Linked DNA regions of Homo sapiens. The protein of the gene in region 4 interacts with the protein of the main gene of each other region in a pairwise test. Each region holds a gene or a part of one and is shown on either strand. Other genes may lie near its edges. The genes, in order: DCAF8, RAI2, MKRN2, DR1, SPMAP2, ZNF829 and LARP4B.

Region 1 (4,301 bases), about 67 Mb from region 4:
TGGGGAGACATGCTTTTTGGCCTGTGGCCAAAAAAAAAAAAAAGGTAAGTAGAGGAGGTATAGGTGTGAGTCCCTACTACACCTGCTAAGCTAAGCTAATTCCTGCTTAGCTTAGTTTTAAGAATTTATAGGGGTAAAGAAAAAGAGAATATATCAGGTGAATCCTTTAGTGGTAAATTTGGCTGACATGAAAATTTATTGCTAAAGGATTAAGTATAGGCCCTGATTGATGAAGCACAGTCAGTAAATCATCTCTTCATTCCCCAGTTCTTAAGCCAACATCAGCAACACTGAGAGAACATTAGATTAAAGGCAGGTATAGAAGAGAGACTTAGGGTAACAAGTTAGTGGGTGCCTGAAGGCATGTGGGAAGAGATGTGGTAAAGGTGTGCACACTATTCCTTACGTGACTTAAAATGTCAAGGGGCTTGGTGTGGTGGCTCATGACTATAAAACTAGAGCACTTTGGAAGGCCAAAGCTGGAGGATAGCTTGAGGTCAGAAGTTCAAGGCCAACTTGGGCAATATAGCAAGACTGTGTCTCTACCAAAAAAAAAAAAAATTAAGAAAAAATTTTAATTTTTTAATTAATTAAATATCTCCAGGTGTGGTGGTATGCTCCTGTAGTCCCAACTACTTGGGAGGCAGAGGAGGATCTCTTGAGCCCAGGAGTTTGAGGCTACAGTGAGCTGTGATTACACCACTGCACTCCATCCTGGATGACAGAGTGAGACCCTGTCTCAAAAAAAATAACTAAAAGTAAAATATAAACTATCAAGGGCCTATCATATGTTCAGAAAGTGGTAGGAAAGTTTGTATTAATCTTTCTATGCTTACTGTCTATCACAGGGCTTGACAAACTGTAGTGCTTGTTTTTATAAATAAAGTTTTATTGGAACACAGCCATGGCCTTACTTTACATGTTGTTTATGACCACTTTCATGCTACAATGGCAGAATTCAATAGTTTTAATAGAGATTAGATGGTTTGCCAGTTTACCAGCTTAAAACATTTACTGTCTTGTCCTTTAAGAAAAAGTTTGCCAAACTCCGTTCTAGCATCATATGTAGAATATAGTAAGCTATTAATAAACACTTAGTTGGGGTGTAGTGGCTTATACCTGTAATCCCAGCACTTTGGGAGGCTGAGGCAGGAGAATCTTTTGAGGCCAGGAGTTTGAGACCAAGCTGGGCAGATGCTGTCTCCACCAAAAAATAAAAATATTAGCTCAGCATGGTGGTGTGTGCCTGTAGTCCCAGCTACGCGGCAGGTTGAGGCGGGAGGATCGTGTGAGCTGGGGATGTCAAGGCTTAAGTCATCAGTAACCTAACTGCCAAAGCAAACAAAGTACTTTTCAAGTCTTTTTCTCTACTCTTGACATTATTACTCCTTCCCTGAAGCACCTTCTCTCCTTGATGTCCAACCACTCCTCAGTGTTGTTCATGGGTGTGTCTTCCTTTCTCCACCCATTAAATGCTGATGTTCTCCAGTAGCTCAGTCTTCAGCTCTCATCTTACTCTATACCAGGGAATTTTAACTTGAAGTACAAATATTATGTGAACCTCCAGAAAGTATGCTTATGTGCATTTTTCTGGGGAGAAGGGACTAGAGTTTTCATTATATTCTGAAACAGGCCAGAGATTCTAAAGGGCGAAGGGAAAATCTTCTCTGTATTTTCCCTTGGAGATCTAATTCCATTACCAATGCTTTAACTACCACCTTTCACACGGATATATGACTTACATCTGTGTCTGCAGACCACACTTATTCTGAACTCTAGACTTACACCTACTTAACAAATGGATATAATTAACTGATGACTTCAGCCAGAGAAGTCTCAGTGGTGAGTTGAGAACCAAAACCAGATTAGGATGGACTGAGAAGTGAATAGGAAGTAAGAAAGTGGAAATATTGAATGTTGATTGTTCTTTTCAGTAGTGTAACTGTAAGGGGAAGGAGAAAAAAAGCAATAGTAGGAAAGGACAGTCAGCAGAAGGATTTTTAGAAAGTGGCCAGCTGGTGATGAGGAAGAGGTTGAGAAATTAGATAATCATCAAACAAGGTCCCTGGAAGGATGAAATGAAAAGCATTTTTCAAGAGATTGGCTCTGAGATTGGAGGAGACTGGGTGAGAACAGATACTGGATCTGTCTTGTTCCTCACTGTATTTCTAGCACCTAGCATAATATTTGACACATAATATGTGTGTCCTCATGAGTTTAAAGCTTGGATTAGAGAGAGGAAGGAAGGTGAAGGTGTAGTGTGCTTGATAAGAATGAGGAAAGGAGAGGGAGTCTTGAGGATATGGGTGGTAGTTTTTAATAATTATTGTGGGGTATGAGAGGGAGAACAGGCCAAATACAGTTTTAAGGAGGGATTACAGACCCATTGACTTACATTAAGCATGGTTTCTGCCCGTGAGTAACCTTTTTCGGTAGGTAATGTACATGTAAAAAGCTCCATACTAATGTTAGTTGTTTCAGTGAAAAGTAGCAGTATGTGATATAAAACTTGAGGAGAGAGATAAACCACTTCAAACTGACAGAATTGAGGATTGCCACTTAAAATGGGAAGTATGTGGATAAAGGATTTAAGGGTTTGCCTGGCCAACAGATGAAACTCTGTCTCTACTAAAAATACAAAAATTGGCCGGGCGTGGTGGTGTGTGCCCATAGTCCCAGCTATTTAGGAGGCTGAGGCAAGAGAATTGCTTGAACCCATGAGGCGGAGGTTGCAGTGAGCCGGGGTCATGCCACTGCACTACAGCCTGGGTGACAGAGCAGGACCCCATCTCAAACAAACAAAAGATTTAGGGTTTGGAAATGGATTGGAAAAGGGATGCCCTTTAAGGAAGAGCACAAACCAAAAGCTTGGTTTGGAAAATGTTGTTTATCTGCATCCAGCTGGCAGTTTCCTGCCACTACATCAAATTGCAGCTCTTCAAGGGTTTCGTTTGTACATTTTTACATTTTCATTGCTTTTCCAACTGTAGGATTTATGACCAGAGGAAAATTGATGAGAATGAGAACAATGGAGTACTCAAGAAGTTCTGTCCTCATCACCTGGTAAGATTCATGAAGGGCCAGTTGCTGCAGGCTTCCCTGACTCAACCCCAAGGCTGCACCTGAACTTGTTGGTATGGTGGGAAGAGCTTGGACTTTCAAGTCAGTCATCTGGATTTGAATCCTGGCTTTACCACTTACCAGCTTTGTGATCTTGGCAGTCACTTCACTTCTGATAGCCTCAGTTTTTTAATCGACAAAATAGAAATAAAAATAACTGCCTTGCACCTTGATGGTGAGGCCTAATGAGACAGTGTACATAAAATGGCTAGCACATGGATGACAACCAAAAGAAAGCCCCAAGATGCTACCCCCTGAGGTGGTCATGTTTCATCAGTTGTACTCTTGTCTCTGTCTGTCTTTCTCAAATCTCTGGGAGAAGATATAGGGGAGTTTGAAGGAAAAGCTGTTTCCTGAAGATGGTATAACAAATGGGGGGGTGGGGCATCAGTCAGTATCTGCTCCTTATTGCAGGTGAACAGTGAGTCCAAAGCAAACATCACCTGTCTTGTGTACAGCCACGACGGCACAGGTACGTGAGCAGGGCCCAGCTCCTAGGCTGGCATGCCCCCTCTGTCTAGGGAGCTGCTGAGCCAGTGAGGCATGTGCCCTCCAGTGCTCACCACTGTGCTATAGCTCCAAGTAGAGCAGCTGGGGAGTAACTGCTGATGGTGAGCACATAGCGGGAGGATACAGTAGATGACCCTTGGAGATGCCAGGTACCATTTGCAGAATGCTGCAGATGATATTTGGCAGGGCCTGTCCTGAAGCCCAGGTTGCTTGCCTGAGCAGGTTCTTATGCCTTTGACTCATTCCTGAGTTAATGGGTATGACCTTTTTGAGCATTCTGCTGCCCCTGGGTTGGCAGTGTGTTCTTAGTCTACCCTGTACAGTCGGACTTGCCTGGTGTTCCAAATAAGATGGGTGCTACACCTGGGTATTTGGAGGGGGCACTACTGGCAAGAAGCCCCACCCCAACCCCCACCTCCTGGTCCCTGCTTTTTTCAGCCTTTGCCTTCACTGCTATGTTCTTGTTCTTGGCAGAGCTCCTGGCCAGTTACAATGATGAAGACATTTACCTCTTCAACTCCTCTCACAGTGATGGGGCCCAGTATGTTAAGAGATACAAGGGCCACAGAAATAATGCCACAGGTGAGACTGTCTTCCTAGGTTTCTTTGGCCCAAGCCTGTTGGCTTTGGAGAACCACAGTGTCTTACTCAGGTTATACAAATAGAAACTA
Region 2 (3,551 bases), on a different chromosome or scaffold from region 4:
CAGTTCCTCCAGTTCCTCATTTGTGTGGGTGGCCTTTGCTGTCAGGGTAGAGCTGCAGTCTCCTTCCACGCGCATCGTTTCTGTCCGTCAAGAAATGGCTTAACCAGGGATTCTCAGCCTCAGCACAACTGACATCTCAGGTCAGATCATTCTTTGTTGGGGTCTAGGGGCTGTCCTGTGTGTTATAGAATGTCTAGCAACATCCCTAACCTCTACCCACTAGATGCCAGTAGTAATCTCTCCCCCCAGCTGCGACAACCAAAAGTGTCTCCAGGCTTTGCCAGATATCCCCCGGGGGTTACAATCACCCCATTTGATAATCACCAGGCTAAACTAGAAAAGAATGACTTTGTCTTCTCTCCCTGGCTCCACCCTCAAAGATCTCTATCCAAGGCTGGGAAAAAGTATGAGCCATCTCTTGATCCACTAGCCTGCGCCACTACTTCTGACTTGCAAGATTTTCAATCATTGAGAACAATGCTCTTACTGCCCTTGAAAAGAAGGGCATTTCCAACTAAACTTTTGGTTGGTGGGAAGGAAGCAGGTTACTTTTTTGTTGTGAGACATTTGTCTTGTCTTACACTATGGAAGGTCCAGGCACAGAATTCTACACACCCAAGAACTATATGAACTGGAAGGAGCCTCAGGCACTTGAAACTCACCTCGCTGTCCCTTTTCTTTGCCACTTATTTATTTATTTATTTTACAAATGAAATTTAAAAAACCCAAGGCCAAAGTGGGAAATGACTTGCTCAAGGTCATCCATATTCCTAACCCTCCTTTTACTGGGGCATAGGGCAATATTTTCCAATATGCCTGAAAAGCTTAGGTCTCTAATCACAGATAACTTACAGCTTTTCACAAGCAAGAGTTTTGGCCAAATTATGCCAGTTAAGGAATGTAAATTTTATAAATGATGAAATACTGCAACCAATTAGTGCAAACAAACATTTATTGTGAAATATTCATCCTACCCTTTATTAGGTATTACATCATCAAAGCACTTTGTGGCAATGAAAATAGCTTTTTTTACCCCTCTAATTCACCCAATATTCCATTAAAGCTGCAAAAAATGTGCAATCTGCTTGAAAAATAGGTTGCTCTTATTTACTCATTTGTGAAAAGTCAAAAATTAAAAAAGAAAATGATACTAGCATACAGGGCCTCTAGAGCCAATTCACCTTTCCATTTCCCAACTACTCCCCAAAATAATTAACAAAGATAATTTGTTTTAAATGCCTTTTTATAAAACCAATGCACCTTTCCCCATATTATAATCATACAAATTTTAAAAAGCCGTTATTTACTTTCTTGGAAAAAAGGTGGCCAGCCGTTGTTTTTTGATTGGGAGCATGTGTATTTCCTGGGAGTTCACTTTCTTTAACTTTATGCTCCGGTTTTTGATGGGTTTCCTAAGGGGCTCTGCATTTCCCATGGACTCTTCCCCTTGGCTGTTGATGTCATAGCCCTGAAGCACGGAGTCTTCTCTTTTGAAGGAGAAGTTTTTGGTGGACACCCCTGAGAGGCCTTTGATCTTGCCACAGAATATGGTAGGCACAGCATCTTCGACAGAGACAATGACCTTGGCCGCCTGGGACTCGCCCACCATCTCAATGTTATTTTCAGCCTTGACTTCGCCGCTGGGGTGGTTGGGCTGGCTGAGCATCTCGGTAGCAGCATCACTGCTGCTGATGTGACTATCCATCATGGCTGGGGCCTCATGGGACGTGGCAGGGGCAAAAGAAATTTCCATGCCACTGGGAAGTTTCTCCATCACTGTGTGACCTGAGCTGTCCACTGATGCACCACTGTCATACAGTGTCTCAGGGGGAGGCTCGGATTTCCGGTGGGCTGCCACTGACAGGTCTAGGGCTGCATCTTCCTGGAAGATTGGGGGACTGACTTCACCAGCCTTGAGCCAGGGCACTGACTTCATGGAGAGATCCAGGGCCTCGTTCTCACTTCCCATCTTAATGACCGTGTGGCGGCTGAGCTGGAAGTACTCCTTAGGCTGGAGGATGTCAAAGGGCTTCAGTTCATCTTTTTCCAGAGGGGTCTGGGTGCCTTTAAAGGGGTGCAGGCCGAAGGAAGATGGTGGCTTGGGGAAACTGGAGCTGAACTTGGATTCAGAACTCTGAGGCATCGGGATGGGGATGGGAATAGGGACTGGCACAGGCAAGGGGACGATTACAGGATACGGCACCAAGAGGGTGGCTGGTGGGACCAGGGGGGACAAGGGGGAGCTAAAAGGCTGTGGGGGCACAGGGGCATAGCCAGGAGGAGGCTGACAGGGTGGGGGCCCGAGAGTGCCCTGGGAGGGAAACAAATTCTGGAGCACAGCTTCAAATGGCAAAGTGGGCTCCTGCGGCTGGCTGGGGATCCTCAGGTCCAGGAGCTGGGGCTGGGCCTCGGGGTCCTCCGCTCCCTGGAAGAGGTTGTTGTGGATGGTACTGGAGGAGCATGGGGCCTCCTGCGGCAGGACCAGAGGGGAGTTGAGGTGCTGAAAGACGTGCTGCTCCAGCACCACGGGCAGTTGCACGGGGCCCTGGGTGGTCATGACGTAGGTGGCATTGCCATTCGGATTGAGCTCTGGTGCGGAGCTTCCCTCCACCTGCATGTGAATGGGCATCACCACTGGGCTCTCCCCGAGGCACAGGGGCTGCAACACAGTGGCCGCCACCTTCAGAGCCATGCCACTCTGAGACTCGGCAGGGGGGTTCAGAATGGATGGGGCTGGCACGGTCACCAGGGCCTTCTTTACCAGGTCAGTGGAGTTGATGTTCCAGGCCTCGGTGGTGATCAGCTGAGCCATGCCATTCTCCAGTCTGTTATTAGCCAAGGCAGGAGGGGAGTCAGTCATGTCCATGGAGAGGTTCTGGGACTGCAGGTCGTCCATCACTCAGCTCTGATGCCACTTGGCCTGCAACACAGAACATACAATATGAATCTTCCTTAAAAGACTATTTATAATTGCCTTAAGAGCTCTCTCACATCTTTAGAAAGTTTCCACGTTTTAGTTAACCAGGGAGCATAACCCATCTCTCTATGTATATGTTCAGGTTATAGATATCTCCTAATATATACAAACACAACCACATGATCCTGTGTGCGTGGAGAACCCCAATTTAACAGATGATTAAGCTATAAATGCAGATGATGTAATCAGTAAATAGCCAAGTGAGGTTAAACCAGGCATTTTTTAAGCCTAATTCTCAGCTTATATGTTTGGCCTTCAACAAAAACGAAGTTTCAGTCCAAGTTGCTATGTCAGACAGTTAAGATATGTAGAAATTTGACTTGTTCAAATTCAAATAAGCAGTGAAGACTTACTTTCCTTTAAGGAAAAAAATAATGCCTTGTCACATGTGAATATGCTATGACTATGGAAAATGGCATTTTAAATACTCTGTAGCAATCATTCTTCCAAAAGAGGTTTGATAAGCACAAGGGTCATTACAGTTGTCTCTCTGTCTCCCTCTGACCAATGACATTCCCATTTCTCCCAGTAACAGCAAAATCCGTTCCCCAGGGCAAGGTGAAGATCGATGATG
Region 3 (4,301 bases), on a different chromosome or scaffold from region 4:
CGGGCGCCTGTAGTCCCAGCTACTTGGGAGGCTGAGGCAGGAGAATAGTCTGAACCCAGGAGGTGGAGCTTGCAGCGAGCTGAGATTGCACCACCGCACTCCAGCCTGGACGACAGAGAGAGACTCTGTCTCAAAAAAAAAAAAAAATTATTTTATTTTTCAGAGGTGAGGTCTTGCTATGTTGCTTAGGCTGGTCTTGAACTCCTGAGATCAAGCAGTCCTCTTACCATGGCCTCCCAGAGTAATGGGATTACAGGTGTGAGCCACTGCACCTGGCCTAAGGCATGTTTAAATGGACAGCGTATTCCTAGATAATCAAGAGGTAAATTAGTACTGACTCCATGTGGCAGCGGACAAGGAGACACTCTCCATTGTCTTCCAGGGAAGCAGAGGGTTAGAGCTGTCTTCTTTATGCAAGTGTGTGAGGTCTCTGCGGTGAGTGTTGGCTTGTCTCAGATCTGGACAGACTGAGCTTACAAGGGCTGGGCCTAGGTCTTCTCACTCTTGCTCAAATGCCAGCACATAGAAGGAATTCAGGGCATGCCTAGTGAATGAATGAATTCATTGAATCATTTTCTTGGGGAGAAGTGGTGCTTCTTACATAGGACTAGGCTGCCAGCCTCAAGCCTCATGGTAAGGACGAGTCAGCATCTCTGATGTAGACATGGCTCAGAGTCGGGGGAAACAGTGCCCAGAGGAGCTGGGGGACTAGGGCCGCAGTCCTTACGGACTCTGACTCCACTGCAGTTTAACCTTTTTGGATCTCCGTGTTCTCAGTCCTAAATGGGTGGTGACCATGTCACCTCCTAGGAAAGCAAGGGGCTGGACCAGTGATGGTTTGAAGTCCTTTGTGTGGTCTGAGGGAGATGTCAGTGTCCTGACTTGGGGGAGCCTGGGCCTTTGCTCACAGCAGTCGCTGTCAGTGTTCCTTCCTGATCTCAGCTGTGGCAGTGTGGCTGCAGCTACTCCTAGGGCTCCTGCCACTCCTCAGTGGCCCACAACCAAAGCCTTCCTTCCTGTCTGTGCTTCAGATCTGCATGTTGACGTTCGAACACGAGATGGAAAAGGCCTTTGCCTTCCAGGCAAGCCAGGACAAAGTGTGCAGTATCTGCATGGAAGTGATCCTGGAGAAGGCCTCTGCTTCTGAGAGGAGATTTGGGATTCTCTCCAATTGCAATCACACGTACTGTTTGTCCTGCATCCGGCAGTGGCGGTGTGCCAAACAGTTTGAAAACCCAATCATTAAGTAAGTACAGCCAGGGGTCTTAGCTGTGGGAGCTAGGAGAATGTTTGATTTGAGACTTTATTCCGTCCACTTTTAAGCCCTCCGTTACCCTCAAGAGTAACTGGTGAGTTCTGGCCCCTGGCTGCATGAACTTCAGCAAGTCATTTACTCTTCCTGAGCCTAAGTGCCTGTTCCTATAAAAGATGGGCAACAATTCCTACCAAGCTTTCTGGGTGTTGGGGAGGAACTCAGCAAAGATGATCTGTGTAAAAAGGTGTTAAATGGCACTGACCTGTTTTCATCTCCTAGCCTTGTGTTTGAAATCCAGTAGTACCTGCCTGTAGCCCAGTTGCCTGTTAATCATTTTGAGCTTCGTTTTTTCCCCCCACCAAAAACGAAAATAGGGTTATTTGAGGATGAAGTGGAATAATGCATGTAAAACATTCTGCATGATGCCTGGCACATGGGATGTGCTCAATGTGGCCAACATAGGAGTCTCAAATTCTCCAGCAGGACAGGGGAAGAGCTGGCATGTGGAGAGGTTACTGCACGCGTTCTACTGTTCAGAACTCCACATCTGTCCGCTCATCTCATTCCCTCAAAGACCCTCCTCAGTTACAGATTAGGAAACAGGCCTGGGGTGCGGGGGTCAAGTAATTTGCCTAAAATCGTGTGGTGAAACAACTGCTCTATTGAGATAAAAGCCCACAATTTAACTCACCACTCATCCGCTTTCTGTCTCTACAGAGTTGCCTATTCTGGACACTTCTTATAAATGGAATCATAGAATTTGGGGCCTTTTGTGCCTGGCCCCTTTCACTGAGCATAGTGTTGTCAGAGTTCATCCCGACTGTAGCATGTGCCAGAGTCCCCTTCTCCTGGCGGAATATGTTCCATTGTATGGACGCAGCACATTTCCCTTATCCATTCCTCAGCTAGTGGACATTTAGGCTGTTTTAACTTTGCAACTATTATGAATAATGCTGCTGTCAACATTTGTGAACACAGCATGTGGGCATGTGTTTTCATTTCTCTTGGGTATACACCTGGGCGTGGGATTGCTAGGTTTTATGGTATAATAACTCTACATTAAACTGTTGGAGAATCTGCCAGACTCTGTTCAAAGTGGCTGCACCCTTTTACATTCTCACCAGCAATGTATGAGGGTTATTTCATCTGTCTTTTTTGTTGAGGAAACCATATATGTGTGTGTGTGTGTGTGTGTGTGTGTGTGTGTGTGTGTGTATTTTTTTTGCTTTAAGTTCTGGGGTACATGTGCAGAATGTGTAGCTTTGTTACATGGGTATCCATGTGCCACGGTGGTTTTCTGCACCTCTCAACCCATCACCTAGGTTTTCAGCCATGCATGCATTAGCTGTTTGTGCTGATGTTCTCCCTCCCCTTGCCCCTGCACCGACAGGCCCCGGTGTGTGATGTTCCCCCACATGTGTCCATGTGTTCTCATTGGGAAACCCTATTTTGTTAATAGTAAATAAGGTTCTTGGATGATTGTGATTTCATCTTTTGGAATTTCTGGTGAAGGAAATGCCTGTAGTGGTGAGGCAGTTGAGCAAGAGGTTTAGCAGAGAGTGTGCCCAGGCTTCGTAACATGACTTCTCCCTTAGTAATCTAATTCTTATTTCAGGTCTTGTCCAGAATGCCGTGTGATATCAGAGTTTGTAATTCCAAGTGTGTATTGGGTGGAAGATCAGAATAAAAAGAACGAGTTGATTGAAGCTTTCAAACAGGGGATGGGGTAAGTGCTTTTGAGTTTCGACGTGCCCCTGCTGCCTGCCTGGCTCTGCTGTCAGCCCGTGTCCTCGTTCTCCTTCCCAGGAGTGTGGTCTTAGGGGCCTCTTCCTCTCTTCCTTCTCTCAGGCACCATGCTGGGCTCTGGGATGCAGCAATGAGCAAGGACATGGTGATGTGGACCTGTTTAGTTTTGGTGTTTTTTTTTTTTTTTTTTTTTTTTCGGTGAGATAGGGTCTCACTCTGTTGCCCAGGCTGGAGTGCAGTGGTGCAATCTCAGCTCACTGCAGCCTCAGCCTCCTGGGCTCAAGCAGGAGCCTCTTGAGTAGCTGGGGCCACCAGTAGTGTGCGCCACCATGCCCAGCTAATTGGCTAATTTTTTTTGGTAGAGACAAGGTTTCGCCATGTAGCCCAGGCTGGTCTTGAACTCCTAGGCTCAAGTGATCCTCCTGCCTCGGCCTCCCAAAGTGCTGGGATTACAGGCATGAGCCACCGTGCCCGGCCTCAAATGTTCCTCTTTATCCTGGTTGTCAGCATGTTGATATTTTGCCTAGGAGTGGAGTGGTTTTTCTCTACGCTTATGTCACTCCCCAAGATGAGCGAAATTTTAGCTATTGTTTCATTAACTTTTTTTCTGTCTTGTTTTTTTCTTTTCCTGCTGGGACTCTACTTCCGTTTATGATAGTTTTTTTATATTGTTCATAGATCTCTGGGGATATTCATTCTTTTTCAATCTTTTTTTCTTTTCATCTCCTTGAACATAGTTGTAGCAGCTACTTTGAAATCCTTGTTATCTTGAAGTTGACCTCTGTTGTCTTTTAAGAATGGATCACATTTTCCTGATTCTTCGTATGTCTAGTAATTTTAGATTTTATCCTTGACATTGTAAATATTACATTGTAGAGAGACTTAGGATTCTGTTATGGTTTATCTGTAAAGTGATGATTTTTTTTTTTTTGAGACGGAGTTTCACTCTTGTTGCCCAGGCTGGAGTGCAGTGGCACAATCTCGGCTCACTGCAACCTCTGCCTCTCGGGTTCAAGCGATTCTCCTGCCTCAGCCTCCCGAGTAGCAGGGATTACAGGCATGCACCACTGCACCTGGCCAATTTTTTGTATTTTTAGTAGAAACGGGGTTTCACCATGTTAGCCTGGCTGGTCTCAAACTCCTGACCTCAGGTGATCCGCCCACCTCGGCCTCCCAAAGTGCTGGGATTACAGGCATGAGCCACTGCGCCTGGCCAAGTGTTGCTGTTTTTAACAGGCAGGTAAATTGTTTGAACTCAAACCCAGGTAGCAGTTCAGATCTCAGTTCTGGTTTTGCATTC
Region 4 (4,301 bases):
AACATTTCTATGCCTTTAAAACTAACTGTTGAGCTGGGCTCACTAGTGCACATCTATAGTCCCAGCTACTCATGAGGCTGAAGCAGGAGGATCCCTTGAGCCCAGGAGTTCTAGGCTGAAGTGTGCCTGATCGAGCCTGTCAATAGCCACTGTGCTCCAGCCTGGGCAACATGGTGAGATCCTGTCTCTTTAAAAAAAAAAAAAAGTTGATTGATAAAATTTTATTTGTATTCATTTCCACAAATTGAACATTTTTCAGTGATATTTACTGTAATATATTTTTTTCTCTCTTGCCCCCTACTCAATCCATCCCAAGTATTTTTCTTCTAAAATTGGGGTGTGAAAGACAGGTAAGCAGGCATGTATTTCCTAATTCACTTTTCTTTTGGAGGTTTTCATTATGTTTTAAGATTCTCACTCCCACATATTAAAATGACTCATTTATAATTTAAAGTTAACTTTAATCTTGATGTATTAAAGGTTCCCTCCTTCCAAATATTTGCTGCTAGCTTCAAATGAGGCTGTCATTGTGTTAATATTTAAAGTCTAAAAAATGAAACAAAATGAAAGTGATAAAAAAGATATATTTACTTATCCACTCTTTCATATTTAGAACTTCAGTGCTCTAGGGAAGAAGTACTAGGCAACTGCTATAATATTACCTCTCCGCTGGTCATCCTCACAATAGTAAAGAAATACTAGAGATCTTCATACATAAGTCAGGGTAAGAAACAAGGGAGACAAAAAAGAGGAATAAAAAAACAGATAATAGGGATAGAAAGGTGAAGACAGATATAGCAGGCAGTCAATTATTTCTTTATATTTTGCCCTGGCAAGGATAATACATATTCTATTTAAAAGCCCCATAATAAGTTTAAGCATATAAAATGGAGGCTAGAGCATCAGCATGGTATGTTAGAAACAGTACAGGCTTTTGGGTCAAAATACCTAAGTTTAAATATAGACTCCAACACTTCCTAACTTTCTGAACTTACTGTTTTATTTAAGTCAATCTTTCCCACTCAATCTTCCCCAGTAGATTAAGCTCTATAATGACAGGAACCCTGTCTCCTTGTTCACTCTTGTAAGCCTAGCACCTAGCATGATGCTTGGTAAATAGTAATGACTTCAGTAAGTAACTGTAGAACAAATGACAAACAATTTCAAGGAAGTTTTTCCGCCTCTGAGTCTATTTTTTAATATGTAAATGAATACAATAAAATTTATATTTCATAAAAACTCTGCCAAGTTTTTATGTATTTAAAGTATCCAGGAGAAAATCTTCTGTCACTAAATGTTCAATTTAGCATTCTCTAGGTGGTCTGCAATATCAATAAATAGCCATTAATGTTTTTAAAACATCAACACCTCTTCTTTTGTACCTCATATTCATATGAATTATAACATTGCATGTACTAACGCCTGCTTCAAAGGCTTTTCCTCTTTAGTGCCTATGATAGGTTGTTGGGAGGATTAAATGAGATAATGCAGGAAAATTACTTGGCAATGTGATTAACACGTGGTTAGAACTCAATAAATGTAAGTTTTTCTTTTTATCTTGTTTAAATGGTACTTGGTGTCTAGTGACCAACAATACTTAAGACTAAAATGCAGTTTGATGTAAACCAAACTGATTGTTATGGCTGCAGAGAGATCAGCTACAGGACTAACCTGGAAGAGTTTACCTAAAATGATACTTCCCAGTTCTAATGGTTACTACGGCTTCTCTTCTATTCAATCCAAAGCTGCCTTATAATTTCAAATGAGAGGCCAGAACTTAGAAGGGAAAACACAGCATTGCCACCAATTCCCCTCCCTTCTCTTTTTGAAACAGAGAACATTAGTATTTGGTTCTAATCCTTCAGAGTCTAGATATTAGAATTATTACAAGCAAGGAAGAAGACATTTTCTCCCTTTGCTCTACTAGCTTTAAAATATTTTTTAAGATTAAAATGCTTCAAAGGTGTATATTAAAGACCTAATTTAACTACACAGTTGATATTAATCAGATTTTGCTGGTATGTCATGCATCATAAAATTTGATATAGTATTTTCTCATCAGCTCATCATTTTAAATCTTAAGAATATTTAGGTATACTTTTCATGCCTTAAAATGGTCATTCTGTCTGAAAAAATATCAAGTGAAATTTCAATAGGTATTTGGAGTTGTTCTCTTTAGAACAGATTGCTGCAAATATTTACTTTCACATAAACCAGAGTCAAATTGGTCAGCTCTGAACACCAGAATCTATAATCAACTACCTAGAAAAAGGGAATCCTCTGGGTATGTCTGTTAATTTAGGAAGCAATTTCAGTTAGCAAACAGGGTAGGATTCAGAGGAAAATAATTTAAATAAATTACTTACTTTTGCAAATAATTCTTGTTGCTGTCTCAATAACTCTTCTTCAGGAATGCCAAGGTTTTCCAAACGAGAACTGGCCTTTCTTCTTTTTAATGCTACTGTTTTACACTCTTGCAAGACTTCTTTTACTTCACTGATGTAAGAGCCAAATCCCAAACTTTCTAGTGCTAGAGAAATGAAAATATTAAAATATGAAAGGGTGATAAAACACAGCTTTCCCCCAACCCGTAGACCTAAAGTTTTTGTGGGCTTTTCTTTGGGGGAGGGGAATGTTTTGCTGTTTTCTAATAATTTTACCTATTTTATAGTTGTACAACAACTGTCTGGGCAGCCAAGACAAATATTTTATCAATCTGCTAAATATTAGGTGGCAAATCAGTTAAAACTTGAAGAACCAAGGCACATGCCTTCACTTTTCATTCTGACTAATTTTTAAAAGACCAAAGCATTTCCTGTAAGCAGGGAAGAAAAAAAAGCCCATTATAAGAACATATGGTTTTAGTAAGAAAAAACATTTTGTGTCATTTGACTTAGAAAAAGTAGGCTGGTAACACATTCTCTACTAAGTTCTGGTAGGACAGAATAAAAGAACAGAAGTTTTTCTTTTGTCCAATATACCAACAGGAAGCTATTTTTAGCAGATACTCAAACTGCCAAGTTTAAAAAATACTGGTGGAAATAAAAGTCATGAAATTCAGCACTTATAGTCAGCCAACAGGTTTCTCTTGAAAATAAAACTTAACAGGAAAAATAAAAACATATTTAAATGATGTGGCAAAAAAAACGTAGCTGAAAGACTATAAAGATACAAGAAGCACTAATAAAAATGTTTCTCCCCTTTTCGTATTTAGAAAGGAAATTTTATAAGGAAAAAAAAATGGGCTAGGCATGGTAGTTCATGCCTGTAATTCCAGTACTTTGGGAGGCCAAGGTGGGAGGATCCCTTTAGTCCAGGAGTTCAAGACCACCGCGGGCAACATGGCAAGACCTCGTCTCTACAAAAAGTAAAAAAATTAGTCGAGTGTGATGGGTCGTGCCTATGGTTCTAGCTACTCAGGAGGCTGAGGTGAGAGGATTGCTTAAGTCCAGGAGATTGAGGATGTCACGAGCCATGACTGCGTTACTGTACTCCAGCCTGGATGACAGAGCAAGACCCTGTTTCAAAAAAAAAAAAAAAAAAAAATTCACACACCCTAAATACCTTCTGTAATCCAGAAAAGACAAGGCATAAAATTTCCTTTTGGGTCATAGTATTTAAAATTATATTTTATAGTTTTGGTATATTGACTAATGCCCCAAAGGCATATTTTGTATTGTGAACCAATGATGAAACATAGGTGGCAAAAAACAGTAAATCAATTTAAGTCATCAGTTCTTGAAGTCTTTCAATCATTATGTTGAACCAGACTCCTTTTAGTATACATGCTCTCACTTCTAACTTCAGGGATTTGCTCTTCTGGGAGAATGCCAAAAACACCTTTACAAATCTACATGCCCATGCAAACTGTGGTTTTTAGACATTTTGAATGATTTACAACTTTAAGTATTTCAAATGTTAAGCTGTTTTCATCAACCTTCTTTAGAAATAATCTGATGCCAAAAAGCATAGTACTGTCCTATTATTAAGTTAACTCACTTCCCCTGACCTCCCTAAAAACTTCAGAAAGGCATTATTCTAAGTTCTGTATATCAAATTCACCAACATGGCCAGGCACGGTGGCTCACGCCTATAATCCCAGCACTTTGGGAGACCAAGGCAGGCAGATCATGAGGTCAGGAAATCGAGACCATCCTGGCTAACAGGGTGAAACCCTGTCTCTACTAAAAATACAAAAAAAATTGGCCGGCGTGGTGGCAGGCGCCTGTAGTCCCAGCTACACGGGAGGCTGAGGCAGGAAGATCGCTTGTGCCCAGGAGTTTGAGGCCACAGTAAACTAT
Region 5 (3,191 bases), on a different chromosome or scaffold from region 4:
TGTGGCTGTCGTTCCGACTCCGACGGTCCCGTGGCCCCTCAGCAGGAGCGTCAGCTGGTTTGACTGTGGCTGTCGTTCCGACTCCGACGGTCCCGTGGCCCCTCAGCAGGAGCGTCGGCTGGTTTGACTGTGGCTGTCGTTCCGACTCCGACGGTCCCGTGGCCCCTCAGCAGGAGCGTCGGCTGGTTTGACTGTGGCTGTCGTTCCGACTCCGACGGTCCCGTGGCCCCTCAGCAGGAGCGTCGGCTGGTTTGACTGTGGCTGTCGTTCCGACTCCGACGGTCCCGTGGCCCCTCAGCAGGAGCGTCGGCTGGTTTGACTGTGGCTGTCGTTCCTACTCCGACGGTCCCGTGGGCCCTCAGGAGGAGCGTCGGCTGGTTTGACTGTGGCTGTCGTTCCGACTCCGACGGTCCCGTGGCCCCTCAGCAGGAGCGTCGGCTGGTTTGACTGTGGCTGTCGTTCCGACTCCGACGGTCCCGTGGCCCCTCAGCAGGAGCGTCGGCTGGTTTGACTGTGGCTGTCGTTCCGACTCCGACGGTCCCGTGGCCCCTCAGCAGGAGCGTCGGCTGGTTTGACTGTGGCTGTCGTTCCGACTCCGACGGTCCCGTGGGCCCTCAGGAGGAGCGTCAGCTGCTTTGACTGTGGCTGTCGTTCCGACTCCGACGGTCCCGTGGGCCCTCAGCAGGAGCGTCGGCTGCTTTGACTGTGGCTGTCGTTCCGACTCCGACGGTCCCGTGGCCCCTCAGCAGGAGCGTCGGCTGGTTTGACTGTGGCTGTCGTTCCGACTCCGACGGTCCCGTGGCCCCTCAGCAGGAGCGTCGGCTGGTTTGACTGTGGCTGTCGTTCCGACTCCGACGGTCCCGTGGGCCCTCAGGAATGGACGAATAAGTCTGGACTGAAGAGATTCAGAAGGCGCTCGAGATGGTCAATGAAAGTGACTCGGAAAATAAACAGCTGGACAAGTCGCAGGTTGGATGCAAAAATAAATATTATTGTCCTCCTCATCCTTCTTTTGGCCTTCTAGCCCGCCCTCCCTTCTCCAGGCCAAAAAGCTCAGAATAATCACATACACAGGGTTAGGGTGCCTGAGGGTGTTTACTGGGAGCGGAGGTCTTAGAGGCCAGGCCTGGGTTGATCACACTTTTCTGGTGATGCTTTTGGGGGTGGCAAGCTCATAGAGGCGAGGGGACGCCTGTCGTATCCCTCGTTGAGGCCCTTGCGCACTTTGGGCTTGGCCAGGGAGATGATCCGGGGGCTGGCCACCACCTTCTTGGTGACATCCAGCACCTCCCAGCGAGGATCTCGGTCAGGAACGCACTTGTCCGACTGAGCTTTGGGCCCTAGTGGGGGCAGAAGAGAAGGACAGCACTGAAGCTCAAACCTCAAAGCTCCACATTCAGGCTGGGCATGGGAGCTCACACCTGGAATCCCAGCACTGTGGAAGGCTGAGGCAGGTGGATCACCTGAGGTCAGGAGTTAGAGATCAGCCTGGCCAACATGATGAAACCTCGTCTCTACTAAAAATACAAGAATTAGCTGAGCGTGGTGGTGCGTCTCTAGTCCCAGCTACTCGGGAGGTTGAGGCATGAGGATGGCTTGAACTTGGGAGGCAGAAGTTGCAGTGAGCGCAGATCGCGTCACTGCACTCCAGCCTGGGCAACAGAGCAAGACTCCATCTTAAAAAAAAAAAAAAAAAAAAAAAAAAGCTCCCCCATTCAAACGGCCTGCTCATCAGCAGAGAAACGGAGGATGAAAATGTAGTCCACTCAGAGTGGAATATGACTCAGCCAAGAAAAGGAACGAGGCTCTAGCACCAGCTACAGCATGGCTGAGCCTTGAGGACAGCATGTGCTGCGAGAGACCAGAGACACGAAAGGACACACAGTGTGTGATTCCATTTATACAAATGTCCAGGACAGGCCAATCCAGAGTCCGGAAGTGAACGTGTAGGTGCCAGGGGCTGGGAGACGGGAATGGGGAGTGACAGCTGATGGGGGCGGGGCTGCCTTCTGAAGGCATAAAAAGGTTCTGAAATTGACTGTGGTGGTGGTTGCATAACCCTGTGACTGTACTAAAAGCCACTGAAACATATTTTTTATTTTTATTTGTTTATTTATTTAGTTTGATACAGAGCCTTGCTCTGTCGCCCAGGCTGGAGTGCAGTGGCGTGATCTCGGCTCACTGCAACCTCCGCCTCCCAGGTTCAAGCAATTCTCCTGCCTCAGCCTCCTGAGTAGCTGGGACTACAGACGTGCACCACCACAGCCAGCTAATCTTTCTATTTTCAGCAGAGACGGGGTTTCACCATGTTGGCCAGGCTGGTCTTGAACTCCTGACCTCAGGCGATCCGCCCGCCTCAGCCTCCCAAAGGGCTGGCATTACAGGCGTGAGCCACTGTGCCTGGCCTATTTTTTATTTTATTTCATTTTATCATTTTATTTTACTTTATTATTTTATTTCATTTTGAGACAGAGTCTTGCTCTGTTGCCCAGGCTGGAGTGCAGTAGCATGACCTTGACTCGCTGTAACCTCCGCTCCCCAGGATCAAGTGATTCTCCTGCCTCAGCCTCCCGAGTAGCTGGGGCTACAGGCGCCCGCCACCACGCCCGACTAATTTTTTGTATTTTTAGTAGAGACAGGGTTTCACCATGTTGGCCAGGCTGGTCTCGAACTCCTGACTTCAGGCAACCTGCCCGCCTCGGCCTCCCAAAGTACTGGGATTACAGGTGTGGGCCACCGTGCCCGGCCCCATTTTATTTTATTTTGAGGCAGGGTCTTGCTGTGTCTCCCAGGCTGGAGCACGATCTTTAGCTCACTGCAGCCTCCACCTGACTTGAACTGCTGGGTTCCAGCCATCCTCCCACCTCAGCCTCGCAAGTAGCTGGGGCTACAGTCATATGCACTGCCACATCGAGCTACGAAACCTACACTTAAAACAGGGTGAATTACAAATAAAAAATATTTCGGTTGGGCGCGGTGGCTCATGCCTGTAATCCCAGCACTCTGGGAGGCCGAGGCGGGCGGATCACAAGGTCAGGAGATCGAGACCATCCTGGCTCACACGGTGAAATCCCATCTCTACTAAAAATACAAAAAAAAAATTAGCCGGGCGTGGTGGCGGCTGCCTGTAGTCCCAGCTACTCAGGAGGCTGAGGCAGGAGAACGGCGTGAACCCGGGAGGCGGAGCTTGC
Region 6 (4,301 bases), on a different chromosome or scaffold from region 4:
TGGGAAGGCTGGTCTCGAACTCCTGACCTCAAGTGATCCTCCCGCCTTGGCCTCCCAAAGTGTTGGGATTACAGGCATGAGCCACCATGCCCAGCCCTATCTCTCTTTTTAGATCTAATAATATTTGCTTATATATCTGGGTGCTGCAGTGTTGAGTGCCTATAAATTTAGAACTTTATATCCTCTGGCTGAATTGACCCATTTATCATTATATAATGACCTTCTTTGCTTCTTTTGCAGTTTTTTACTTAATGTCTGTTTTATTTAAGTATGGCTACTCTCACTTGCTTTTGGTTTGTTTGTGTGCAGTATTTTTTTTTCATCTCTTCACTTTCAGTCTATGATTTTATATATAAAGTGAGTTTCTCACAGCCAGTATATAGGTGAGTCATATTTATTTTATCCATTCAACCAGACTGTATCTTTTAAGTGGGGAATTTGACTGTTTACATTCAAGGTTATTATTAATAGGTGAGGATTTATTCCTAATCTGTTAATTTTTTATGGTTGTTTTATATCCTTTTTCTTTCCTCTTATCATTTGGTTTGGTGGTTTTATGTAATGGTTACATCTGAGTCCTTTCTCTTTCCATTTGTGTATCTGCTCTACCAGTGAGCTTCTTATTTTCATTTGTTTAATGATGGTAGATATGTCTTTTACTTCCAGATGTAGGACACCCTTTGCCATTTTTGATCGGGCCACCCTAGTTGTGATACATTTTCTCTGGGAAAAACTTTCTCCTTCATTTTTGAAGGATGGCTTTGCTAGGTACAGTATTCTTGGCTGACAGTGTTTTTTTAGCACTTTGAATATATCATCCCATTCTTTCCTGGCATGGAAGGTTTCTGCCAAGGTATCTGCTACTAGTTCTGATGAGGGTTCCCTTGTATGTGACTTGACGCCTGAGGGTTCCCTTATATGTGACTTGATGCCTTTCTCTTGCTTTTTTTAGAATTCTCTGTCTTTGACTTTTGACAGTTTGACTGTAATGGGCCTTGGAAAACCTTTTTGGATTGAATCTATTTGGGCATCATTGAGCCTTCTGTATCAGGATGTCTATATTGCTTACAAGACTTGGAAAGTTTTCAGTTATTTTGTTAAATAGGTTTTTATGCCTTTGCCCATCTCTTCTCCTAGAATACCCAAAATTTGAATATTTGGTTGCTTTATGATGTCCCATATGTCATCTAAGCTTTTTTCAGTTTTAAAAATTATTATTTTTTACTTTTTCTTCCTGGATTCTTTTAAAAAACCCTGTCCTCAAGTTCAGAAATTCTTTCTTCTGCTTGATCTAGTCTATTGTTGAAGCTCTCAATTGTGTTTTTTATTTCATTCATTGAAATTTGTCAGTTTCAGGACTTCTGTTTGGTTCTTTTTCATGATATCTATCTGCTGAATTTCTCATTCAGATCATGAATTGTTTTTTCTGATTCTTTTGGTTTTTATCCATGTTCTATTGTTTCCCACTGAGCTTCTTTAATATCATTATTTTGAATTCTTTTTCAGGCACTTGATAGATTTCTTGTTTGTTGGAATCTGTTGCTGGAGCATTATTGTATTACTTTGGAGATGTCATGGTTCCATGCTTTTTCGTGTTTCTTTTATCCTTACATTGATATCTGTGTATTTCTTGTTATGGTCATTTTTTCCAATTTTATGGATTTGTTTTCATAAGGAAAACCTTTTTCCTGTAGATGTATTTATAGTGTTGGTTGGGTAGGTTGCTTTGGCTTTGTTATAGGTGGATGCAGTGGTATAATCTCCATATGATTTCTCTGGCTGCAATCAGTGTCAGCAGTGTCTGTGAGTTCCTCAGTGGCTTAGGGCTTGGTTGTTAGTGGAAGCTGTGATGAGGCTTTTCTCATTGTTAGCAGGGCCAACAATGGTGATAGGATGAGGGGTATGCCAGGTAAAGGGGAGATCCATGTGGGAAGGCCCTGAGGGGCAGGGAGAACTTGAGGTGCTTGAAGGACTGGGGCTTCTTGAGCAAGTGGAAGTGGAGTATAACACAAGGTTGTAGAGGTAGGCAAGAGCCTCATTATTGGAGTCTTCTTGGTAATTACCAAGGAGTTTAGATTTTCAGGAGGGCAAAGTGAGACCAAATATCACACCAGGTGCTGAATGGATTAGAGGGTGCTAGAACATACTGGGGAAACCATTAGGAGATTCCTGTAGTGGTCTAGGAAAGAGGGGATTCAGTAATTAAATGAGGACAACTTTAAGAGATTTTTAGGGACTCACCCAGACTAAGTTTGGCCAATGATTGTGTGGAGGGAATACTTAAGATAGTCTAGCTGGCTTTATTTTGATGTCTTCAAGCCATTTTATTTGCCCAATATCTGTTTTTGCTATGACATTTTTTCATAATAATAGCTACCAATACTGAGTGCTTACTTTATATCAGATTATTTATATACGTTATTCCTCATCTTTTTAGCAATCATAAGTTAAGTGTCAGTCCCATTTTAATAAACAAGGAAAAGAGGGCTCAGAGGTTGCCTTAAAGCATAGAACTGGGGCTCACTGTTTATATGTTGACATGGAGTTCCATTCTTCTCATAGAGTACATTTCATCCTATCTTAACTCTCTTGTGTCTCAAACTTGAGCCACCTTCCTTCTCAATCACTGCTATGACTTGAATTATTCATTTCTTTCTCCCAAGGTCAACATCACAGAATTCCAGAGCAAATTATTTTCAGTGAGTTCCTAGCCCATATCATGCTGTATGCACAGAAGAGATGTACCTGTCTACTCTTCCCACCAGTTGTGTTCAGCATATTAGATTTGTCGGAGGCTGGTGATTTGCCAGTATACCATTGCACAGTCACTGAACTCCACCCGCCCCCGACATTTAAACCTTTCAACACATTTGTTATTCTTAACAGTCCTTTCATGTAGGTCTGACAGTTATCTACGAATTGCAAAACATACAGTATCATACTCTGTGCATGTGAGCATATGTTTATGAACGTGTATATAATTAGAATATCTCACGCATGGTGCATGCCCTGGAGCAGAAGCGGCATCCTGCTGGCCTGTCCTCCTCCATGGCCCTCCAGCTTAACCCCTGCCTGGGCATGCTGATGGCCTTGCAGTCGGAGCTCCACAAGCTGTACGACGAGGAGACACAGAGCTGGGTCTCAGGCAGCGCCTGTGGGGGATCTGGGGTGGGGGCAAAAAAAATTTTTTTTTTTTAATTAGAATCTCTCTATAATATGGAGGATGGTGCTGAACACTGTGTATTCACCAAGGCTTAAGGTGACTCTGGTTCAGACCAAAATTTGAGGATCATAGAGGTCATCTACTTTCTGAATCCACATCCTCAGCTTCTTTTATTACCTCTCCTAATGTCTGTGCTTTTCTTGTCAGTTTTACAGATTGCCTCTCCACCTTTGAAAACTGTGTAATTTCTCAGATATTCTTTTCAGTTTAATTCTCCCATTTCTTTTTTAGAAGTTTTAACTTGCCCAGAATAGGAAAATTTATTTGCCTTTGTATTTTCTTTCAGATCTGGAATCAATGTGTGAGACCAAAATATTATCTCTAAAGAAGAGACATTTCAGTCAAGTAATAATTACCCGTGAAGACATGTCTACTTTTATTCAGCCCACATTTCTTATTCCACCTCAAAAAACTATGAGTGAAGAGAAACCATGGGAATGTAAGATATGTGGAAAGACCTTTAATCAAAACTCACAATTTATCCAACATCAGAGAATTCATTTTGGTGAAAAACACTATGAATCTAAGGAGTATGGGAAGTCCTTTAGTCGTGGCTCACTCGTTACTCGACATCAGAGGATTCACACTGGTAAAAAACCCTATGAATGTAAGGAATGTGGCAAGGCTTTTAGTTGTAGTTCATATTTTTCTCAACATCAGAGGATTCACACTGGTGAGAAACCCTATGAATGTAAGGAATGTGGAAAAGCCTTTAAGTATTGCTCAAACCTTAATGATCATCAGAGAATTCACACTGGTGAGAAACCCTATGAATGTAAAGTATGTGGAAAAGCCTTTACTAAAAGTTCACAACTTTTTCTACATCTGAGAATTCATACTGGTGAGAAACCTTATGAATGTAAAGAATGTGGGAAAGCCTTTACTCAACACTCAAGGCTTATTCAGCATCAGAGAATGCATACTGGTGAGAAACCTTATGAATGTAAGCAGTGTGGGAAGGCCTTTAATAGTGCCTCAACACTTACTAACCATCACAGAATTCATGCTGGTGAGAAGCTCTATGAATGTGAAGAATGTAGAAAGGCCTTTATTCAGAGCTCAGAACTTATTCAACATC
Region 7 (4,301 bases), on a different chromosome or scaffold from region 4:
TCTCCACCTACCTCCCAGCCGCGTTCTCTTCCTTCAGCCTTGTTCACACTAGTTCCTTCAAAGCACTCTGCACCTTTCCCACTTGGGGCACTACACAGGTAATTCTCTCTGCTGACCTCTCACTCCACCACCATCCCTCCAACCTCGGTGCCACCATCACAACCTCAGGGAAGCCTTCTGATCCCTCCCATCCAGGCCGGATGTCAGTGCACTGCACTTTCTTATTGGATTATGTGATTGTCCACCTGTCTCAATGGACACCAAACTCCAAGAGATGGCAATCTATCCCTCTTGTTCACCATACTGGGATCTACTCATCAACTATTTAGCGCATGCTACCTACCAGATATTGTTCTAAGGCTTAGGTTCATACTGAGGAGCAAAATATAAATCTTGATCTCATAAGAGTTTACATTCAAGTATGAGAAGACGGGCCATACATAAATTAGTAAGTAAATTATATGGTATGTTATAGTGTCATAAATACTATGAAAAAAGTACAGCAAGAAGGGGAGACAAGGAGAGTGCAGGGCAGGATACACCATAATATATGTGACTGTTGTAGCAGACTATCCAAAGAAGCATGCAGCTGAGAGCCAGCCACTTCCAGAGGCCAGTCTCTATGGCTTTACATAGAACAATGCACTTTCCTATTCCTGCTGGATGACGGGCCTTACAGAAAAATCCTGTTGCCTTTCATCTTTGCATCCCTAGTGTTCAACTGGTCAGAACACCTGCCACAGGAAGAAAATGAACCCTTTTCTTACCGTAATCTCAGTGGCCCTCCTTTATGCCAGGCCCTTTAGCAATACTTAACAGAAAATAAAAAATGGAAAAACATCCACTAAAGTTTAAAAGATACATTTTCAATATTGCAATTGTTTCATTTTGGGTTAACATGATGTTTTTATTTTAAAGCAAAATAAAGGTAAGAAATTCTATGGCTATCTAAAAGGGGGCATTTATTTTATTTTATTTCATTTTTTTTCAGACAGAGCCTCACTCTGTCGCCCAGGCTGGAGTGCAGTGGTGTGATCTCAGATCACTGCAACCTCTGCCTCCCGGGTTTAAGCAATTCTCCCGCCTCAGCCTCCCAAGTAGCTGGGATTACGAGCACGCACCACCACGCCTGGCTAATTTTTGTATTTTTAGTACAGACAGGTTTTCACCATGTTGGCCAGGCTGGTCTCGAACTCCTAACCTCAGGTGATCCACCCGCCTCGGCCTCCCAGAGTGCTGGGATTACAGGCGTGAATCAAAGTGCCTGGCCGAAAGAGGGCACGTTTTTAAAGACTGAGAAACAGTATAATTTAAAGGTCATGTGGCTAAATTACTCTATCTGAAAATACTTTATGCGCTAAATGTAGCTATGAAAAGTCAGTTAAAAACTTGTAAATATAACTTTTATACTCTATAAGAAACTTTCTAATGTATGCTTTTTGAGTAAAGATTTTCCTATTTGTTTACAGAAATGTGCAAGTATACAATCAGCAAACAATTTCTCTGGAACACAGGTGGGAGATGTCTTTGAGCATTCTTATCTCTTTACTTGAATTACTTTCACTAAACATCTACAGTTTACCAGTCCCTGGGCTGGGCAGAGGTGACAAGCATAAAAAGAGAATCTCACTCACAAGGAGCTTACATTAATTATGTGCTAAGTAACACAAAGGTACACTTAGTTGCTACAGAAACAGAGAAGCATAATCTCAGAAGTTAATGCAAAGCAGTCTGGAGGACTCCTAAAATATCTTTTTAAGGATGGTTTAAGGAGCTAAGTAAATATTTTAAAAATTTTTTTAAAGGAGGTGGACATTCAATTTCAGTCAAAGAATCTACCAACAGCAATGGCTACAACGTTTGCAACACCAAGGTAGGAGAGGGAGGCGTGGTCCTGATTAAAAGGTGGGGCAGGGCAAGAAGGAAGACACAGAAGTGGAAGCACACACAGGGCGAGGCCTAGGGCAGTCCTGATGAGTTTCTGAAAAGAGGCCAGCCATCAGGCTATGCCACACTCTGGCTACAGTGCGACTAAAATGATTTGTGTAAATAAAAGAGCATTTTATTGGGCAAATTTATGCACATCAGACTTCATAAAGAACACTTTCAGCAAAGATCAAGTCTCATCTCTATGATTATCATACTCCCCCTAAAAAACTAAGCAGTACGCTTTCAAATTTGTGTTAAACATGGCCGGGCGCAGTGGCTCACGCCTGTAATCCCAGCACTCTGGGAGGCCAAGGCAGATGGGTCACTTGAGGTCAGAAGTTCAAGACCAGCCTGGCCAACACAGTGAAACCCAATTTGTACTAAAGTACAAAAATTAGCCGGGCGTGGTGGCACGCACCTGTATGTAGTCCCAGCTACTCAGGAGGCTGAGGCAGGGGAATCGCTTAAACCCTGGAGGCAGAGGTTGCAGTGAGCCGTGATCGTGCCAGTGCGCTCCAGCCTGGGCAACAGAACGAGACTCGGTCTCAAAAAAAAAAAAAAAAATTGTGTTAAACATGAAATACTTTCAATATTGCAATGTACTCCATGGTCTAGGTCTCCTAACCAGGGCAATGGGGTTGATGGGAAAGAAGATGTAAAACCAGTAGCATCACTGAACTGCAAATCCTTTATGGTTGAAATAGGAGCCATGACAGCTTCACCAGAAAAACTATGAGAAGACAGAGTTTATAAAGGCATTGAAGGGACAAAAGGTATTAAGGTATGGGGTGGCGGGGGGGCAGTGAGAAAGAGAAGGGAAGGAAACACAGCTGAGTTAATAATTTTCCTTGTTCCTAAGGAAGGCATTTACACACAGGAAAAACAAAGCATTAGAACGTTAGGGGAAAAAACTTTCAAGTTGGAATTTATCTCCCTTCTTTTGAGAACCTAGCAGTTTTCTACCTTACAATTCCATGTTCTAAAAAAGGAATTCATTTTCCAATCAAAATAACTCTAGAAGTAGAGTAGTTACAAAGATATCAACCAGCATAAGAGCAAAAAGTTTAAACTGAACTAAACTCAGACCTGATGAGGTTAACTCTCTGAGTGCCTCATTTACTTCGTACTCTAAAATAAGCTTTTACAGAAAAAGGAGAACTCTTCACATCAATAAAGTTCTACAAAAGAGCATAAGCAAGGAAACCCTTACAGCAGTGTCTGTTTTTAACAAGGTATTTTCCAAAAACATGACTTCAGTGTTCATGTCTTCTCCCCATTGGAAAAAGGTTGTTTTGAGAATTTTGTAGAAGAAATTACAAGAATATACTCCAAGATTTTTGTGCAATTTATCAATCTGAAAAGAATATCCCTAAATCTGACAGAATCTATAAGAGTACTGTATGCATGATAAAAGCATATTTAAAACTTGTACCTTTGGCCAGGTACGCCGTGGCTCACGCCTGCAATCCCAGCACTTTGGGAGGCCGAGGCGGGCGAATCACCTGCGGTCAGGAGTTCAAGACCAGCCTGGCCAACATGGTGAAATCCCAACTCTACTAAAAATACAAAAAAAAAAAAAATTAGCCAGGTGTGGTGGAGGGCACCTGTAATCCCAGCTACTCGGGAGGCTGAGGCAGGAGAATCACCTGAACCCGAGAGGCGGAGGATGCAGTGAGCCAAGAACGCACCATTGCACTCCAGCTTGGGCGACAAGAGTGAAAGTCCGCCTCAGGAAAGAAAAAAAAAAAAAAACTTGTACCTTTAACACTAGGATAAAAACAAATGAAATCGATTGATGGTAACACATCTATACAGCTTTTTTACAACTTTGAGAGGCCCTAACATAGACAACACGTTACTAAGATTAGAAGACCTAGATTATAATCCTAGCTATCACTATTTTGACGGAAAATATGAATTTTAACATGACAATGAAATAACAGTGAAAGGAGTTTGTCAGCCACTCCTTGGCTGGTAACATCTACCATAGCCTATCACTACAAAAACTTGCAAATCTATGTAGAGTAGCTGCAGCTACCTGAAGGCACTGTTCATTGTAAACACCATTAACAATTTGATGTCCCAATTTGCATGTTTTGGGGGTGGGGGGAGACAAGGTCTCACTGTTGTCCAGGATGGAGTGCAGTGGCAGGATCATGGCTCACTGCAGCCTCAACCTCCCAAGCTCAAGCGATCTTCCCACTTCAGCTTCTCCAACAGCTGGACTACAGGTGTGAGCCACCATGCCTGGCTAATTTTTTGATTTTTTGGTAGAGATGAGGTCTCTCTATGTTGCCCAGGCTGGTGAACTCCTGGGCTCCTAAACTCACCTAGGCCTCCCAAAGTGCTGGGATTACAGGAATGAGCCACCT

The links.
Region 1: the proteins of DR1 (region 4) and DCAF8 interact in binary tests that used the Homo sapiens proteins (3 or more experiments, as listed by UniProt).
Region 2: the proteins of DR1 (region 4) and RAI2 interact in binary tests that used the Homo sapiens proteins (3 or more experiments, as listed by UniProt).
Region 3: the proteins of DR1 (region 4) and MKRN2 interact in binary tests that used the Homo sapiens proteins (3 or more experiments, as listed by UniProt).
Region 5: the proteins of DR1 (region 4) and SPMAP2 interact in binary tests that used the Homo sapiens proteins (3 or more experiments, as listed by UniProt).
Region 6: the proteins of DR1 (region 4) and ZNF829 interact in binary tests that used the Homo sapiens proteins (3 or more experiments, as listed by UniProt).
Region 7: the proteins of DR1 (region 4) and LARP4B interact in binary tests that used the Homo sapiens proteins (3 or more experiments, as listed by UniProt).

What each region holds. Positions count from the first base shown.
Region 1 is NC_000001.11:160,224,353-160,228,653, reverse strand, and holds part of DCAF8 (DDB1- and CUL4-associated factor 8), read left to right. Parts: intron 1-2,990; coding exon 2,991-3,063; intron 3,064-3,534; coding exon 3,535-3,592; intron 3,593-4,104; coding exon 4,105-4,212; intron 4,213-4,301. UniProt on the Homo sapiens protein: May function as a substrate receptor for CUL4-DDB1 E3 ubiquitin-protein ligase complex.
Region 2 is NC_000023.11:17,799,115-17,802,665, forward strand, and holds the end of RAI2 (retinoic acid-induced protein 2), read right to left. Parts: intron 2,921-3,551; 5' UTR 2,897-2,920; coding exon 1,304-2,896; 3' UTR 935-1,303; downstream 1-934.
Region 3 is NC_000003.12:12,573,761-12,578,061, forward strand, and holds part of MKRN2 (E3 ubiquitin-protein ligase makorin-2), read left to right. Parts: intron 1-1,031; coding exon 1,032-1,246; intron 1,247-2,870; coding exon 2,871-2,981; intron 2,982-4,301. UniProt on the Homo sapiens protein: E3 ubiquitin ligase catalyzing the covalent attachment of ubiquitin moieties onto substrate proteins.
Region 4 is NC_000001.11:93,352,137-93,356,437, reverse strand, and holds part of DR1 (protein Dr1), read right to left. Parts: intron 2,531-4,301; coding exon 2,367-2,530; intron 1-2,366. UniProt on the Homo sapiens protein: The association of the DR1/DRAP1 heterodimer with TBP results in a functional repression of both activated and basal transcription of class II genes.
Region 5 is NC_000019.10:361,087-364,277, forward strand, and holds the end of SPMAP2 (sperm microtubule associated protein 2), read right to left. Parts: intron 1,341-3,191; coding exon 1,114-1,340; 3' UTR 661-1,113; downstream 1-660. UniProt on the Homo sapiens protein: May be involved (but not essential) in spermatogenesis.
Region 6 is NC_000019.10:36,891,680-36,895,980, reverse strand, and holds part of ZNF829 (zinc finger protein 829), read left to right. Parts: intron 1-2,762; exon of another isoform or gene 2,763-3,163; intron 3,164-3,509; coding exon 3,510-4,301. UniProt on the Homo sapiens protein: May be involved in transcriptional regulation.
Region 7 is NC_000010.11:924,564-928,864, forward strand, and holds part of LARP4B (la-related protein 4B), read right to left. Parts: intron 4,102-4,301; exon of another isoform or gene 1-4,101. UniProt on the Homo sapiens protein: Stimulates mRNA translation.